Linked DNA regions of Homo sapiens. The protein of the gene in region 1 interacts with the protein of each later gene in a pairwise test. Each region holds a gene or a part of one and is shown on either strand. Other genes may lie near its edges.

The links. The genes of interacting proteins can lie anywhere in the genome.
Region 2: the proteins of CSNK1D (region 1) and SERPINH1 interact in binary tests that used the Homo sapiens proteins (3 or more experiments, as listed by UniProt).

The regions. Positions count from the first base shown.
Region 1 is NC_000017.11:82,270,685-82,277,844, forward strand, and holds the start of CSNK1D (casein kinase I isoform delta), read right to left. Parts: upstream 3,017-7,160; 5' UTR 2,698-3,016; coding exon 2,622-2,697; intron 1,419-2,621; exon of another isoform or gene 1-1,418. UniProt on the Homo sapiens protein: Essential serine/threonine-protein kinase that regulates diverse cellular growth and survival processes including Wnt signaling, DNA repair and circadian rhythms. It can phosphorylate a large number of proteins.
Region 2 is NC_000011.10:75,557,477-75,565,263, forward strand, and holds the start of SERPINH1 (serpin H1 isoform 1 precursor), read left to right. Parts: upstream 1-4,776; 5' UTR 4,777-4,843; exon of another isoform or gene 4,844-4,902; intron 4,903-4,996; exon of another isoform or gene 4,997-5,540; intron 5,541-6,250; exon of another isoform or gene 6,251-6,294; intron 6,295-7,787.

The DNA.
Region 1 (7,160 bases):
TCGCCTTTCCTCCGTGGGGTCGTCTGAAAGGACCACAGTGTAGGCTAGGAGCCAATGCTGATGGGAAAAAAAAAAATCAGCTGTGCCTAACCCCACTCAAGTAACTGGACGTGTACCCTGATGGGTGGCTGTCTGGGACGGCTGTCTGGGGGCTCCAACCCCAGGGTGTCAGAGCCACAGCCGCCCGCAATCCCGTATCCAGCATGACTGTATGCCCAGCGCGAGGTGAGGCCTGGAGGGTAGAATGCTGAGTGAGGAGACAGCCTTCCACCCTCCACCTCTGGAATTACTTGGTGACAACCACACCAAAATTTGTCTTAATCTATCTTTGGAAAGCACAAAGTTGTTTGACAAGGTCTCAGATCAGAGAACAGATAGTTTCAAAGTACTTCTTATTTATTTATTTTTTGAGACAGAGTCTCACTCCATCGCCCAGGCTGCAGTGCAGTGGTGTGATCTTGGCTCACTGCAACCTCCGCCTCCCAGGTTCAAGCAATTCTCGTGCCTCAGCCTCCCAAGTAGCTGGAATTACAGGCAGCCACCACCACGCCTGGCCAATTTTTGTATTTTTAGTAGAGATGGGGTTTCGCCACTTTGGCCAGGCTGGTCTCCTGACCTCAAGCGACCCGCCCACCTCAGCTTCCCAAAGTGCTGGGATTACAGGCGTGAGCCACCACACCCGGCCCAAAATACTCCTTTTTGATGCCTGCCTAAAGGTGGCTAATGGACTGGCTTTGCAGTGTAACTCAGATCCTGGGGTTAAAACTTTCGCCAAAATCCATTGTTCTATAAATAAGCCAAACGACTTCCATTGACCAAGCACTCTGACTTCCCAAACACTGCCAAGAACACATCCAGCTGACCACCTGGTATAAATGTTTAATAGCCAAACCCAAATGTCTAAAGCCTGCTTACTCAGCAGTCCACTAAGGCATATGTACAGGTTCAAAAGCAACAATATGGCATGTGACAGGGTCACCTGGCAGGTTAACCAGGCACCGAAAGTATGAGCCACCCATATGTGTGGATTCGTCCTAACGCTGTCAGCCCACCGGGTCCTGAGTCCTCTCTCTGGTGACAAGTGGGAAGGGTGTGAGAACTGGAGACTGTCCACATGTGGCTTCATCTAAAAGGTATGACCAGAGGCATTACTGACATCCCAGGGGATTCCTGACCCTAGCTGACAGGTGCCCCAGTTAAAACACACCCCAAAGCTAGGGCTGCTGGAACAGAAAACAGCTCCCCTCAAAGGTCTGCAGCAGCCCCTCTGCAGGCACACCGCCTCAGGCTACATATCCTCAAATTCAGGGGATCTTGGAATAACTCGTGCATTGCACAATCCCACTAACAAGTGCGGAAAATTAAGTTACTTTAAAATTACAAACTTGGGCCAGGCGCGGTGGCTTCCCAGCACTTCGGGAGGCCGAACTGGGCGGATCACTTGAGGTCCGGAGTTCGAGACCAGCCTTGACCAACATGAAGAAACCCCGTCTCTACTAAAAATACGAAATTAGCCAGGCGTGGTGGCGCACGCCTGTGATCCCAGCTTTTCGGGAGGCTGAGGCAGGAGAATCGCTTGAACCTGGGAGGCAGAGGTTGCGGTGAGCCGAGATCACGCCATTGCACTCCAACCTGGGCAACAAGAGCGAAACTCCGTCTCAGGAAAAAAAAAAAAATTACAAACTTGAAGATTTAAGCCAACCTTTCATCACACTTGTGTTCACGTGCATATTTTTCCATTGTAAATATGACACAACCCAAAACCTTCTAATCCCATTGTTTTTGAAATCTACCTTGAGACTGTTACAGTCTAAAGGACACCTCATGAGTACAACTACCTCATCTGCCTCTCATCTTGCCAGCATCTTAATCCTGTGTGACTTTCTCTACATTCACCTAAACTTAACCCTTGCTCATTTGCACTCAGTCACCGCTCCAAGGCCAAGGGGAACCGTTCAGAGAGAACCCCCAGCGGGAGGGCAAGCCCCACTCCTAGCCGGGCCACTCCCCCGCTCCACACGGCATTTGGGTCTTTCTGACATTTTCCCCCACGAATGCAAGACACCGGGGCAGCCTCTGAGGGGGCAGCCAGACAGCCCCGGACCGGGCTGCGGAAGAAAGAGCGTGGCCTTTGTTTACTGCGGTGACCTTAGGCGTAGAGGAAGCCGACGCCCGCTTCGCGGCCCCAGCCCTACCCCCTCCCCTCCCACGGCCCGCTGCCCCCACCCCCGCCCTGCCCCTCCCCCAGGCCCGCCTCCCCACGCCCCACCCAGCCCTTCCCGAGTCCGCTCCCCACGACCCTGCCCCTACCCAGGTCGGCTCCCCAGAGACCATGCCCCACCCCGGGTCAGCTCCCCTATCCCCTCCTTCCCCAACCCTCCCCTCTCCAGACCCTGCTCCCCCGACCTGGTCCTGCCCCTCCCCCACGTCCGCTCCCCACTGCCCTCCCCACCCCTGGCCGCGCTAGCCTAGTGGCCGTTGGGTTCTGGCCACGATCCGGCGGTGCCGGGACTTGCGCGGAGACCCCGCGGGGGCCACCACTTCCTTCCGCGATCGCGCTTGGTCTTGGCAGCCGCAGGGCCCGGGTCTTCGGGCGGCGGGCGGGGGCGGCGGGGCCTCACCGAGATAGATGTCTCCGAAGGAGCCGCTGCCGATCTTCCGGCCCAGCCGGTACCTGTTCCCGACTCTCAGCTCCATGGCGGCGGCGGCCCGATTCGCTCCTGCCCTCCCGGCCGCTTCCTGGGTCTGAACTCTGGGAGGCGGCGCCGCTGCTGCCGCTACTGCGGGTCCGGCTCCCGGCTCCGCCCCCCTCACGGCCCCGCTTTCACCATCGCTTTCCTGTCGCCCCGCCGCTCCCAGCGCCTCAATACGGGGCGGATGGGACAGTCCGAGCGCCGCCGCCGCTGCTCCGGCCCCTACCGGTCCCGCTTGCCCTCTCCCCGCCGCGGATGGACTCGGATCTTCCGGGCCTAAATCCCCTTTCAGCTGCCTAAAGGAGCCGCCGCCATCGCGCTGTGACGTCACTTCCCCTAGCAACCCGGCGGGGCGGGGCCGCGGCGCTCCAGGGGCGGGGCCGGGCGGGGCGAGCGCTCCAGGCCTCCTCCCGACCCTGCGCCGTGCCCAGCCCCTCTGCCCTCCTGTTACCCCGGGACCTCGGGCCGCCAGCCCCTTCCACGTGCAGGCTCCTGCTGCTCTCGCGGGGGCTTTTCGTGTGTCCCCCGAGATGTCGAGGAAGCCAGGTGAGTTCCTCGCGACAGGCGGTGCCCTTTGCAGGAGGGGACAGGTAGCTGAGGCGTGGACAGAGTGACAGGCCAGGCTCAGGGGACACAGGTGAGACCCCCTCACTGGGCTGCCAGTTCCCGGGCTTGGGGCATCCCAGTACGTCAGCGTCTGCGGCCTTACCTCCTGACACCTAAGGCCAGAGACAGAGCAGGCCCGCGCCCTGGGAGGTCCTGATGTCCAGCCTGAAGATTGAGGACAAAGCCACCACCTTTCACAAAATGAGGCCAGACCACCTGCCTCCCTCCAGTCCCTGCGGCCTGGAGACGGAGTCAACATTCTTATCTGTGTTGGATCTGAATGTTCCTCCTTGCAAAGGAAACAAGGAGTGGACGTTCAGGCTGATGGCCAGCTTCAAAGATCGGGGCCTTTGATTCCCATCACTGGGAAGAAAGCCCTTCAGACAAGCCCCCCCAGGCTGCAGGTGCATGGGGACCTTGAAGAACCCGTCCCCATGGTCCCACGTCCATGTGTCTCGAGACCTGTCGCATCCTCGCTGAAACTCAAGAATGTGAAACAGGTGAAGGTGTGTTTTGACGCATTAGCATACCAGGGCTGTGGTGTGGGCACCGCCGTGTGAGTGAGACAGCAGCCTCAGCCCGTCCAGGTCACTGCAGAAGAGGAAAGCAGCCCCCACAGGCCCCACAGTGGTGCTCGCCTTTCTCCACCCCCCAGTCTTTCCTCTCCACCCCTCAGCTCCAAACAGCTGGAGGTCAGGTCGGGGAGACGGGCGTCCATTCCCGAAATTACATAGCAGGGCCTGGAGACAGGAGATGCCGCCGGCCAGACCACCATCAGTCACTAATGAGGGATGGGCAGTCGGAACTGCCCAGTTTCTGAGTTACAGAAGCCGGGGGTGGGGGGCTGCCAGACTAGTAAAACTGACCTTGTTGGCGGAATCGCTCACGGCTTTTCTGTTGATGAACAGAGTCCAGCTCTCCCACGGGTGGCTGTGATCCTTCTTCCTGGGGAGTCCTGCTGTCCCTGACTAGGGGCACCTGCCCACCTGTCAGCTGCTCCTCCCTCGGCTGGTCCTCCTGGGCTCTGATGGCCCCAACATTTCTAGCTCTTCTCACCCATAGTGCCCCAAGCTTCATGCAGCTGCGGCAGGTACTGTGCCCGTCTGCCTGGCTTTTGTGTGTTTGTGTCTTGACTCTATAACCCGTGCACACGGACTGGGCTGTGGTGTAGTGGGGATGGCAGGAGCCCTGGGAACATGCGGGCTGGGCAAGGTGAGGCAGGCTGATTGCTGTGGCTCCCCCACCACCAGCCCCAGCCACAACAAACTGACAAAGGAAGAGGACAGTGGTACCCTGGAGCCCTGGGGTCAGAGAGAGGAGGACAAAGCAGGTGTGTAGCCCAGGGAATGACAGCACCCCTTCCGAGAAGACAGGGAGGGTGCAGACATGGCCAGGTTCTGAGCTAGAAAACTGTCAGCAGGGGGCTGAAGCTGAGGATAGTCATTGCCAAGGAACAGCCTCCGTCACAGAGGAGACGCACAGATGCGGTGACGAGGGAGGGATGCGGGGCTGGTGACCGCTGGGAACGGATGTGTGAGGCAGAGTCTCCAGGCATGGTCTGTGGGGCGGTTTGATGATACTAGAACATCTCAGAGTAGAAGGACGTCCCGACCTGCAGACTGGAAAGCCCCCAGAGCTCCCGGCAGGACGTATGAGGGCCAGCCCACACCCAGGTCTGTCCTGATACAACTGAACGCCACAGTGTCTTAGCTCCTTTACTGTTGCTATCAAGAAACACCTGAGGCTGGGAAATTTATGAAGAATCATGAGGTAATTTGTATATTTGTCCACACTAAACCTCATGTTGAATTGTAAACCCCAAGGCTGGAGGTGGCTGGGTCATGGGGGTGGATTTCTCAGGAATGTTTAGTACCATCCCCTTGGTGCTGTCCTTGAGATAGTGAGTTCTCCTGAGATCTGGTTATTTAAAAAGTGTGGGGCACCTCTCTCTCTCGCTCACTCGCTCGCTCGCTCCTGCTCTGGCCATGTGACGTGCCCGCTCCCCCATTGCCTTTCACCATGATTGGAAGCTTCCGGAGGCCTCCCCAGAAGCTGAGCAGAGGCCAGCACCATGCCTCCTGTAAAGCCTGCAGAACCAGGAGCCAAGTAAACCTCTTTTCATTATTTATTTATTTATTTATTTATTTATTTTGACACAGGGTCTCGCTCTGTTGCCCAGGCTGGAGTGCAGTGGCGTGATCTCGGCTCACTGCAACCTCTGCCTCCTGGGCTCAGGTGATCCTCCCACCTCACCCTCCTGAGTAGCTGGGACTACAGGCACACGCCACCATACCTGGCTAATTTTTCATATTTTTTGTAGACATGGGGTCTTACTGGCCCAGACTGGTCTCAAACTTCTGAGCTCAAGTGATCCATCCACCTTGGCCTTCCAGAGTGCTGGGATCACACGCATGAGCTACCATGCCGGCCCTCTTTTCTTTTAAAATTGCCCAGTCCTAAGTATTTCTTTATAGCAAGGCAACCACAGCCTAACACAGCTCACGATGCTGAGGTCTCAAAAGTTCAAGATCGGGCGTCTGCCTCTAGTGAGGGCCTTGCTGCCGCTGCCTCCACTCATGGCAGAAGGTGAAGGGCAGCTGGAGTGTGTGCAGACCGTGTGCGAGAGGGAGCTGGAGGAGTAGGGAAGTACAGGCCTTTTTTTTTTTTTTTAAGATGGAGTCTCGCTCTGTTGCCCAGGCTGGAGCGCAGTGGCGCAATGCCGGCTCACTGCAACCTCCGCCTCCCGGGTTCAAGCGATTCTCCTGCCTCAGCCTGCTGAGTAGCTGGGATTAGAGGCATGCGCCACTATGCCCGGCTAATTTTTGTATTTTTGTAGAGACGGGGTTTCACCATGTTGGTCAGGCTGATCTTGAACTTCTGACCTCGTGATCCGCCCGCCTTAGCCTCCCAAAGTGCTGAGATTATAGGCATGAGGCACCGTGCCGGCCGTGCAGGTGTTTTTAAAAGCACCTCTTGCTGGAACTAGTAGGAGTGAAAACTCACTCATTACTAAGAGGACAGCACCAAACTGTTCGTGAGGAATCTGCCCCCATGACCCAGACACCTCCAACACTGGGGCTCAGATTTCAACCTGAGGTTTGAAGGGGACCAACACCCAAACTATAGAAACAGAGAAAGAGGAAAGTTTACAGATACCCATTTAGAAAGAATCTGCTAACAAAGGGAAAGAATCAGGCTGGGCGCGGTGGTTTATGCCTGGAATCCCAACACTTTGAGAGGCCAAGGTGGGTGGATCACCTGAGGTCAGGAGTTTGAGACCAGCCTGGCCAGCATGTGAAACCCTGTCTCTACTAAAAATGCAAACATTAGCCAGGCGTAGTGACGTGCACCTGTAGTCCCAGCTACCCAGGAGGCCAGGCAAGAGAATTGCTGGAGTTCATGAGACAGAGGTTGCAGTGAGCAGAGATCCTGCCACTGCACTCCAGCCCAGGCAACAAGAGCGAGACTGTGTCTCAAAAACAAACAAACAACAACAACAAAAGGAAAGAATCAGACTGGCTTGGGACTCTGCTGTCCCCTGCCCGTGACCTCCCAAAAGCGTGTGTTAGAGACTGACCTGCCTAGTGCGTCAGTGGAGGGGGCACTTTGGAGAGGGGCTTGGATCGTGAGGCCCCGCCCTCGTGAATGGCTCAGTGCCTTGTGAAAGGGCTTGATGGAGGGAGTTTGGTCCCTTTTCCCCTTTTGTCTCTCTGCTGTGTGAGGACACCATGTTCCTCCCCTCTGGAGGATGCTGTAACAAGCTGTCATCTCGGGAGGAGACACCAGGCCCTGACCAGACGCTGAACATGCCAGCACCTTCATCTTGGACTTTCCAGCCCCCAGAACTGTGAGAAATAAATT
Region 2 (7,787 bases), on another chromosome or scaffold:
AAGTGGCAGACCTGGGGCAGGATCCCAGGTCTCCTAACCCCCAAGTGAGGGCATTTCACACTCCATAGCACAGCAGGGCTGAACTGGGCTGAAGCAGATTAGAGGTGGTTTGGCAGGGTGTAGGGGGTGGTCAGAGCTCAGGAGTCCCTTTTCTGAGTGTCAGGGATGCTAAGACAAGGGAGGACAGCCCTGTAGCCCACCTGGGCATCACTGTTATTACAGGCTCAGCAGCACCTAAGGGAGAGGAGAACAAGACGGGAAGGGAAAGGCAGGGCTGTAGTTAACACACATCCTCCATCCCACCAGCCCTTCAGGCCTGGTCTTGCAGGCACTGGAGCTGGTTCCATGGGTTGCCAGAGGAAGCCTGAGAGAGGGAGGCTGGGAGAGGGGGCGGGGAACCTGATCCTGTGTATATGTCAATACCCAACAAAAACTTGTGTAGGGGGGTGGGGTGCATTTGGGTTACTGGAGTTACACAGACATGTGTGTACATGGATTGTGTGAAGGGGCTGCTCAAGTGCCGTGTGTGCACCATGTATGTGGGTGCACATACGCCTGTGTATATAGCGAGTCAGTGGGCTTGTGTCTCCTGGGTATTGTGCCAGGCATGTGGGTGAAGGCGCTGGAGTTCCTATGTGGCTTCGCTCAGCACCAGGATTGCAGACGGGTAGGGGCGGGCCTGCTCTGGGAGGAGGAGGGGAGGAATCATGTGCCCACCCACCCCCACATGGACCGGCTGCCCACCCTCCAACGTGGCAGCACGCAGGACAGCCCTTTTTGGATGGAAGGCCCCACGCTCCAAGAGAGAGAATCCAAGATTACAGAAATCGTGTTTTCCTGACTCATGCCTTGGGCTGAGAGCACATTCTTGGCTCCTGGACAGCATCTCAAAGAAGAGCTGCCTATAGCAGCCCTGGCTCCCTGAGGGAGGGGGCCGACCCTGGACTGGCTGTCGGAGCTTTCTGGGCTCCAATTTTATACCAATGTAAAAAGAAGGGGATTAAACTTCCTTCCGATTAACGTTCTATAATTAAAAGTGAGACACTAATGACGGTGCCCAGCACAGGCCTGGCAGCGGCAAAATGGCCCATAAATGTCACTTCCTTCTCGTCCACTCCCTGCCTTCCCGTGGATATGGCATAAACAGACCTGATTCAAAACCCAGCTCTGACTCTGGCTTGTTGTGTGCCCTTAACCCTGTTGCTTAGTCTCCCTGATCCTCAGTTTCTTCATGCTGAAAATTGGAACATTCTTCCTTACCTGAAAGGAATAAATATGATAATAAATGTGAATGTGTTGCACACTTAAATGACATGCAAGTTTTTGTCCTAGGATTCTATGGGGTGAAGACTGAGTGAATCTAGCCACTGGGGCCAAAGAAAGCTGTTTCCACAGCACCTGGCAGAACTGGGCCTACATACCCCCCTGGGTCATTAGAGGGTACTGTGGGAGAAAGAGGGCTGGGAGTCCAGGGCTTAGGCTCCAGCCCAGCCCCACCTCTGATATGCTGTGTGACCTTGGGTAAATTCCTGCCCTCTCTGGGCTTCCGTTGTCCTCTCTGTATAGTGTGGATGCAGTTGGACTTGATGGTTTTCTACTTTCTGCTGTCCACACCTCTCGGGACCTAGGGATCTAGAGGATTTCCAGCCAGCCTCCACGTGCCAGGCACCAGGACCACTTCCTTCAGTGAAGCGAGGCACTGGAGGAGTCCAGAGACAAAATGCTTGAGAGTTTCTCTGCTTATCAGACTCTTCTCCCCCACCCCCTAAAAGAGTGCTTTTTCCGGAAAGCTCTGCCTGGAATGTGGGGGAAGGGCCACAGTCAGTCTGGGCTGGGCTCAGAGCTAAGAATATTGTGGCAAAGGCTCTTGACTTTTTTTTTTTTTGCTGATCTTGGAAATTTAAAGGAGCCGTTGCTTTCCCTTCTTCAGGGAGGCTGTGCTAGGGGCACAGCAGCCTCAGGCAGCCACTTCTCATCCCCTGGCCAGCCATGCTTACCCAGTGCCTCTTCCATACTGTCCCCTTGCTGGAGCTGGGGACTCACAGTGACAAGGAAAAGGCCCTGCCCTTCCAAAGTCTCCAGTGATGGTTCACTGACAATACAGGGTGATAACAGAGATAATGCAGCAGTGGGATAGGTCACAGAGGAGGCTTCTGACCCGGTGTGAGATTAGTGGGGGTCGGATGGGGGTTGGGCCTTCAGACCCAGCCCTCCTTAGGCCTCAGCTTTGCTGTCTGTAAGGGCAGGTCCTCTCTTCAGTGACCACTCATGATACTGGGTCTATTTAACAGCATGAGCTTTGGTTTATCCCTCAAAATGGGACAGTCACAGCACTCTCAGTCTCCCCCTCAGGTGTTGGTGAAGCCTAAAAGAGCTAAGAGATGTAAGAGAGTAGAGGAAGGGAGTCTCACTGGGATTGTGACATCTGAACCTGCTGAAAACCCAGGCGACCCTCTCTGTTTTGCCAGCATTGATGGGCACTCTTTGTTTCTGCTCTGCCCTGCCCTCAGCTCACTGACCAAGTCACAAGGAAGCCTGAGGGCCAATGTGGGGGTGGGAGTAGAGAGTGGGGTCTGGCCTGGGACCCGGGAGGTCTCCTTGGATAAACAAGAATTTATCTTTTTTTTTTGAGATGGAGTCTCGCTCTGTCACCCATGCTGGAGTGCAGTGGCATGATCTCGGCTCACTGCAAACTCCACCTCCCAGGTTCAAGAGATTCTCCCGCCTCAGCCTCCTGAGTAGCTGGGATTACAGGCACATGACACCACAGCTGGCTAATTTTCATATTTTTATTAGAGATGGGGTTTCACCATTTTGGCCACGCTGATCTTGAACTGCTGACCTCAGGTGATCCACCCACCTCGGCCTTCCAAAGTGCTGGGATTACAGGCATGAGCCACCGCGCCCAGCCTAGAATTTATCTTTAAAAGCAATATACAGTTGAGGCAGGAGGAAGCACATGAGAACCACGACAGCCACCCCAAAGAGATGGACACCATGCCAAGGCTGGAAGCTTTTGTTAATAATCAGACCTGTCCTAAAAAAGAATGCGGGGCTGCCTCTGAAGGAGGTAAGCTCTCTCTTCTTAGAGGTGCCTCGGTGCTTGCCTTTTTGGGATACTGAGAAGAGGGCTTCTGCCTGGGGCTGCAGACAGGAACCCCTGACCTCTGAGATGCCTTGCAGCTCAGAGTCTTTAATACATTTATTCCAGAATCCTTCGACTCTGAGATTTTAACATGTTAAGATTCCTTAGCTGGATTCAAAGACTCCTTGGGGGCTTTGAGTGGAAGTAATCTCTGATTCCTTGACCCTGAATCACAGAGTCTGAAGCTTTTGGGATCTGAGATTTCCCACAGTCCTTGTACTCAAAAGACTCTGAGCTGCAGAAGCCTACCCAGACAGAGAGGTTTGTCACCACCACCAGGCTTCCCCACAACCACTAACAGAGGGCAGGGACCCAGGTGATTGACTCATTTGCTGGGTACTGGGATTTTTTTGCTCCCCAGGATCCAGGCAAGCACCTAGAAGAAAGAAGATACTCAATGCATTCATTCATGACTGAATGAATGAAGAGTCCCTACCCTGTCCCTTCCTCTCCATACTGCGTCCATCCAATAGCTATCATTAAACTACTAAAGAGGACTTTTCGGAGGGTAGGGAGCCTCGGCTGATCAGAAATTGAGCCACTGTCGCCCAGATTATTTAGGGTTTCCTAAATAATCTGCCTCACTGAATCACTGAATTCCCTACTAACAGGTACATACCCCACAGATGGACATCGCACAGGGCAAGGACTTTGTTCAGCTCTCAGCTGTGTCCTCAGCACCTAGAACAGTAATGAATACCCTAGCTTAACTTGGAGGTCAAGGAGCTATCAGTTTGCGAGGGTGGGGTAGGAATTGACAGTGAGACCTGAGGCCTGTGGGAGGGGACCCAAAGAGGGAGGGGATGCAATAGGGAGGGGGCCAGGGGTGACAAGGATTGAGGAAGGGAGAGAGGGGGGAAAAAAAGCAAGGGATGCCTTAGAACCACATTTCACAGCCAAGGGAACAGAGGCCCAGAAAGGGAAAGTAACCTGCTTAGGGTCACACAGCACCTTGCTCAGTGGAGAGCCAGGTTTTCCTTCCTGTGCACTCCTCCAAGCCCAGCCAGACCACCTGAAGTTCCCCAGGCATCTCTGCCTCTATTACTCCACGACTTGAACTTTCCGGGTGCCGGGCAGGTACCGGGTCTGGTCTGCTCCCTCTCCCTCTGGCCATCGCTGAGGTTGAGGTTTTTTGAATGTACAAGTATGGAGAAGGGCACTGCCTTCAGAAGCCTGAACGTCTCCCCTGAGAGGGAGGGGGTGCACAGGACTCAATTGTTTCAGCTTGAAAATGGGGGAGAGCGGGGAGAAGGGGAGATGGCTCTGCTTGGGGCAGAGCCCCTGCGGGGAAAGGGGCGCCTGAAAGGACGTGCGATTCGGAGTGGGCTAGCTTATGCAGAGAGCCTGGGGGTGGGAGGAAGCTCGCACTCTGAAGGACACGCTGATCCCCGTGGGGACTCCCGGCGCCCCGCAGCCCGGGCCGCCGAGGGAGGCAGTAGGACCCAGGGGCCGGGAGGCGCCGGCAGAGGGAGGGGCCGGGGGCCGGGGAGGTTTTGAGGGAGGTCTTTGGCTTTTTTTGGCGGAGCTGGGGCGCCCTCCGGAAGCGTTTCCAACTTTCCAGAAGTTTCTCGGGACGGGCAGGAGGGGGTGGGGACTGCCATATATAGATCCCGGGAGCAGGGGAGCGGGCTAAGAGTAGAATCGTGTCGCGGCTCGAGAGCGAGAGTCACGTCCCGGCGCTAGCCCAGCCCGACCCAGGTGAGGGGCGGGAGACGCCTGCGTGCGTGCGGCCCGGGGGAGCGCCGAGCAATCTGGGGGTGCGCGAGGGAGTAAGAGGGGCGAGGGGACCCTGCGAAGCGTTGGGTGCCGAGCCAGAGCCTACAAATTGGAGTCCTCGGCACTTTGGGGGCCGCTGGAGGGTTTGGAATCGAGAGCCCAGGGCTAGCCAGTGATGGTGCCAGCTGAGGGCTAGGGCGGAGATCGGAGCCGGGTTGGGAGTCCGTGCACTCGGAGGACTGGGAAAAAGTGCAGGGACCCCTAAAAGGTGGTGGTGGCAGATACGAGACTAGGTGCTGTGTAAAGGGGGCTGGGGGCAGAGAGCAGAGCCTCTGCGGAAAGAAACAGAGGAGGAAGGAGATGGGTCTGGTGCCTCTTCCCGCAAGGGTAGGGAGGATAGGCCGGCCTCGCAGTTCCAGGTCACTTCCGTTCTGGGGTTGAGGCTCAGGGGCAGCGGTGATTGGTGGCCCAGCCTCCTCACAGGCTTGCTGAGGGAATTTGAGCTTCCGGTGGTGGGAAAGGAGGTGAAATCGTCTCGACTCCTGGGGTCCGTGTGCTCTGGTAGAAGTGGGCGACAGTGGCTCAATTTCTGATCAGCAGCTTGCAGCCTAGATGATGGCAGCCAAAGGAAAGACTTGGCCAGCGAGGCTCCCTACCACTCCGAAAAAAGAGAGTGGGGGTCAGCAGGGTCTGCTCTGCTCTGGGGATTAAGGGGCTGACTAGAAGGATTTGAGTCTTTCCTTCTGTCCACTGCCACAGGGTTCTTGGAGTAACTGCAGGGTTTAAACTGCAGGGTCTAACTTCCAGAGGCTGGGGTTCCCTGCCCCCCAGCTTAGAGACATTCCTGAGGTGGCTGAAGAGCAGGAAGGAGAATGAATGCACTTCCAGACTGGCCCAGAGTCTCAGCCCCTCCTCTTCCTTGTTTCCCGCTGGTCCCTCTGGGCTGTACGGCCCGGATGGAGGCCTGAGGAAAATGAGGGGGCTTTGGTTCTCCGGAATTCCGGCCGGGGCCACACCCTCCTGTCTTCAGATGGTTCATGTACCCATCCCCCCTTCCCGTCCTCTCCTTTGTCTCCTCTGTCACCGGGACTCCCAGCAGAGATTTTTTTTTTGTACTGGCTGTGTAACAGGACACCGCATGCAGCCCTCAGGAGGGGCTCTGTGCTTCTGTGAGGAAGGACCCCTGTGCTGGGAAGGCAGACCCCTGTTTATCCCGAGGGACCTGGGGTGACCCCCTGCCCTGGCCTTGTTTCTCCCATTTTACAGTGAGGTGGTCGATCTCCAAGGTCCCTGTAGATTGGGGACTGGTTGTGCCCTCTGCGCCAGGGGCCTCCTCACCATCTCTCCTTTGCCGGCTCCCGCCCTCTTCACTCTTCTGTTTTCTTTCAGAATGAAAAAGGCAGGCATTGACCTCCCTCTGAGGCAGTTTCCAGGTACTTTAGACCTCTCAAGTGTTTGGGACCCTCTGGTGGGGTCCCATCATCTCCTCCCCTTCCCTTCCAGACCCTGCTCAGTCCAGCTAGCTGTGGGCACAGCCCTGGCTAGGTGATCTTGTATTTTCTTTGTGGGACTGTAACTCAGCTAACCTTGGCCTGAGGGCTGGCATTTCTCTGTGGCAAGATGGGCTGGGCTGTGGGAGGCTGGCCTGCTTGCAGTAACTTGCCTTCCCCCATTCCTGCTGCTGGGTTCAGTGGGGCTGCCCTTCTCCCCAGTAGCGCATTTCCCTTCAGAGATTCATGTGCGGATGGGAAGGGAACTAAGGCCAAGAAGGCTCCTGGAGTCCCCTGGCAAATATGTGGCACCCCCTGGGACCTGAGTCAGGCCTGCTTCCCAGGCTGGAAGCCCCCCTCTGCCGGCCGGTGGAGATAGTTCAGCCTCCTGCCTGCCACGTCACCACCAGGAGCAGGCGCTAAGCTGCTGCGGGCCTAGCGGGCTGCCTGAGGAATCCCAAACCAGTTATTTGGAGCTTGCTTGAGAAGCCCCTCCCAGTCCTTTGAGGTTCTGGCTGGTGGGGGTGGGGGCTGTCAAGATGGTACCTGCCACGTGGCATGGCTGGGAGTGGGCTCTTCAGCTGCCTCCTCAGGGAAGGAAGGCTGTTGGCCTCTGCTGTGGTCTGAGCTCCAGCATCACTGGTCTGGATCAGAGGTGGCTTTTGAGTAGGGTGGCCATATGCCTATTGTCCTGGCATAATAATTAGTAGTGCCCATTTTACTCTTATAAGTGTCCTTGTTTGTGCAATAAATTATATGGTTGCTCTGCCTTTGAGGCTCCAGTTCTGGCAGGGAAGGAGCCAGAGCTGGGAGGGAGGTGTCTTGGGGTTTATTCTAGGCCCCAAGATATCCCCTTCATTTTAGGGTGAGACTCAGATCTCCCCGCTCCTTCCAGACATTTTTAGATCTCTGGGCCTTCCCTCCTCTCCCCACCTCCCTCCCCTTGGACCCTTTGCTTATCTTATACTGCACCTTCAAGGCTCCGAGGAGGGAGGCAGTCCCGGGAGATGGGGAGCCTGTCCAGGTTTTTGGGATGGCAGCAGTAGAATCTTCCCAGAAATACAGTGGTCCCCAGGCAGCCAGAGTCCTGAGGGTCTTCCACCAGGATTTCAAATGTTCGGTCTTCTTCAAGGATGACTACAAGTTGGGATCTACCAGAGCAGTGGGATCGCAGCCTCCACCAGGATTCCTTCTATCCTTCCCTTTGCCCTGTCATCTCTCCTGTGCTGTTGCATGATGTAGAGGAGGATAATGGCCCGAAGGGAGAGAGGGAGTGTGGAAGTATCCCAGGAACAGAGACTGTCCAAATTGGAGGCCCCAGAGAGGGAACTGGGGCTTGTCCTTGGGGCCACTGCTACTGCTGGGGCTTGGGGAGGAGGCCTGAGGGCAACCCTGAAGCCGTGGAGCAGATGGCCTGTGTGGCAGTGGCTGTCAGA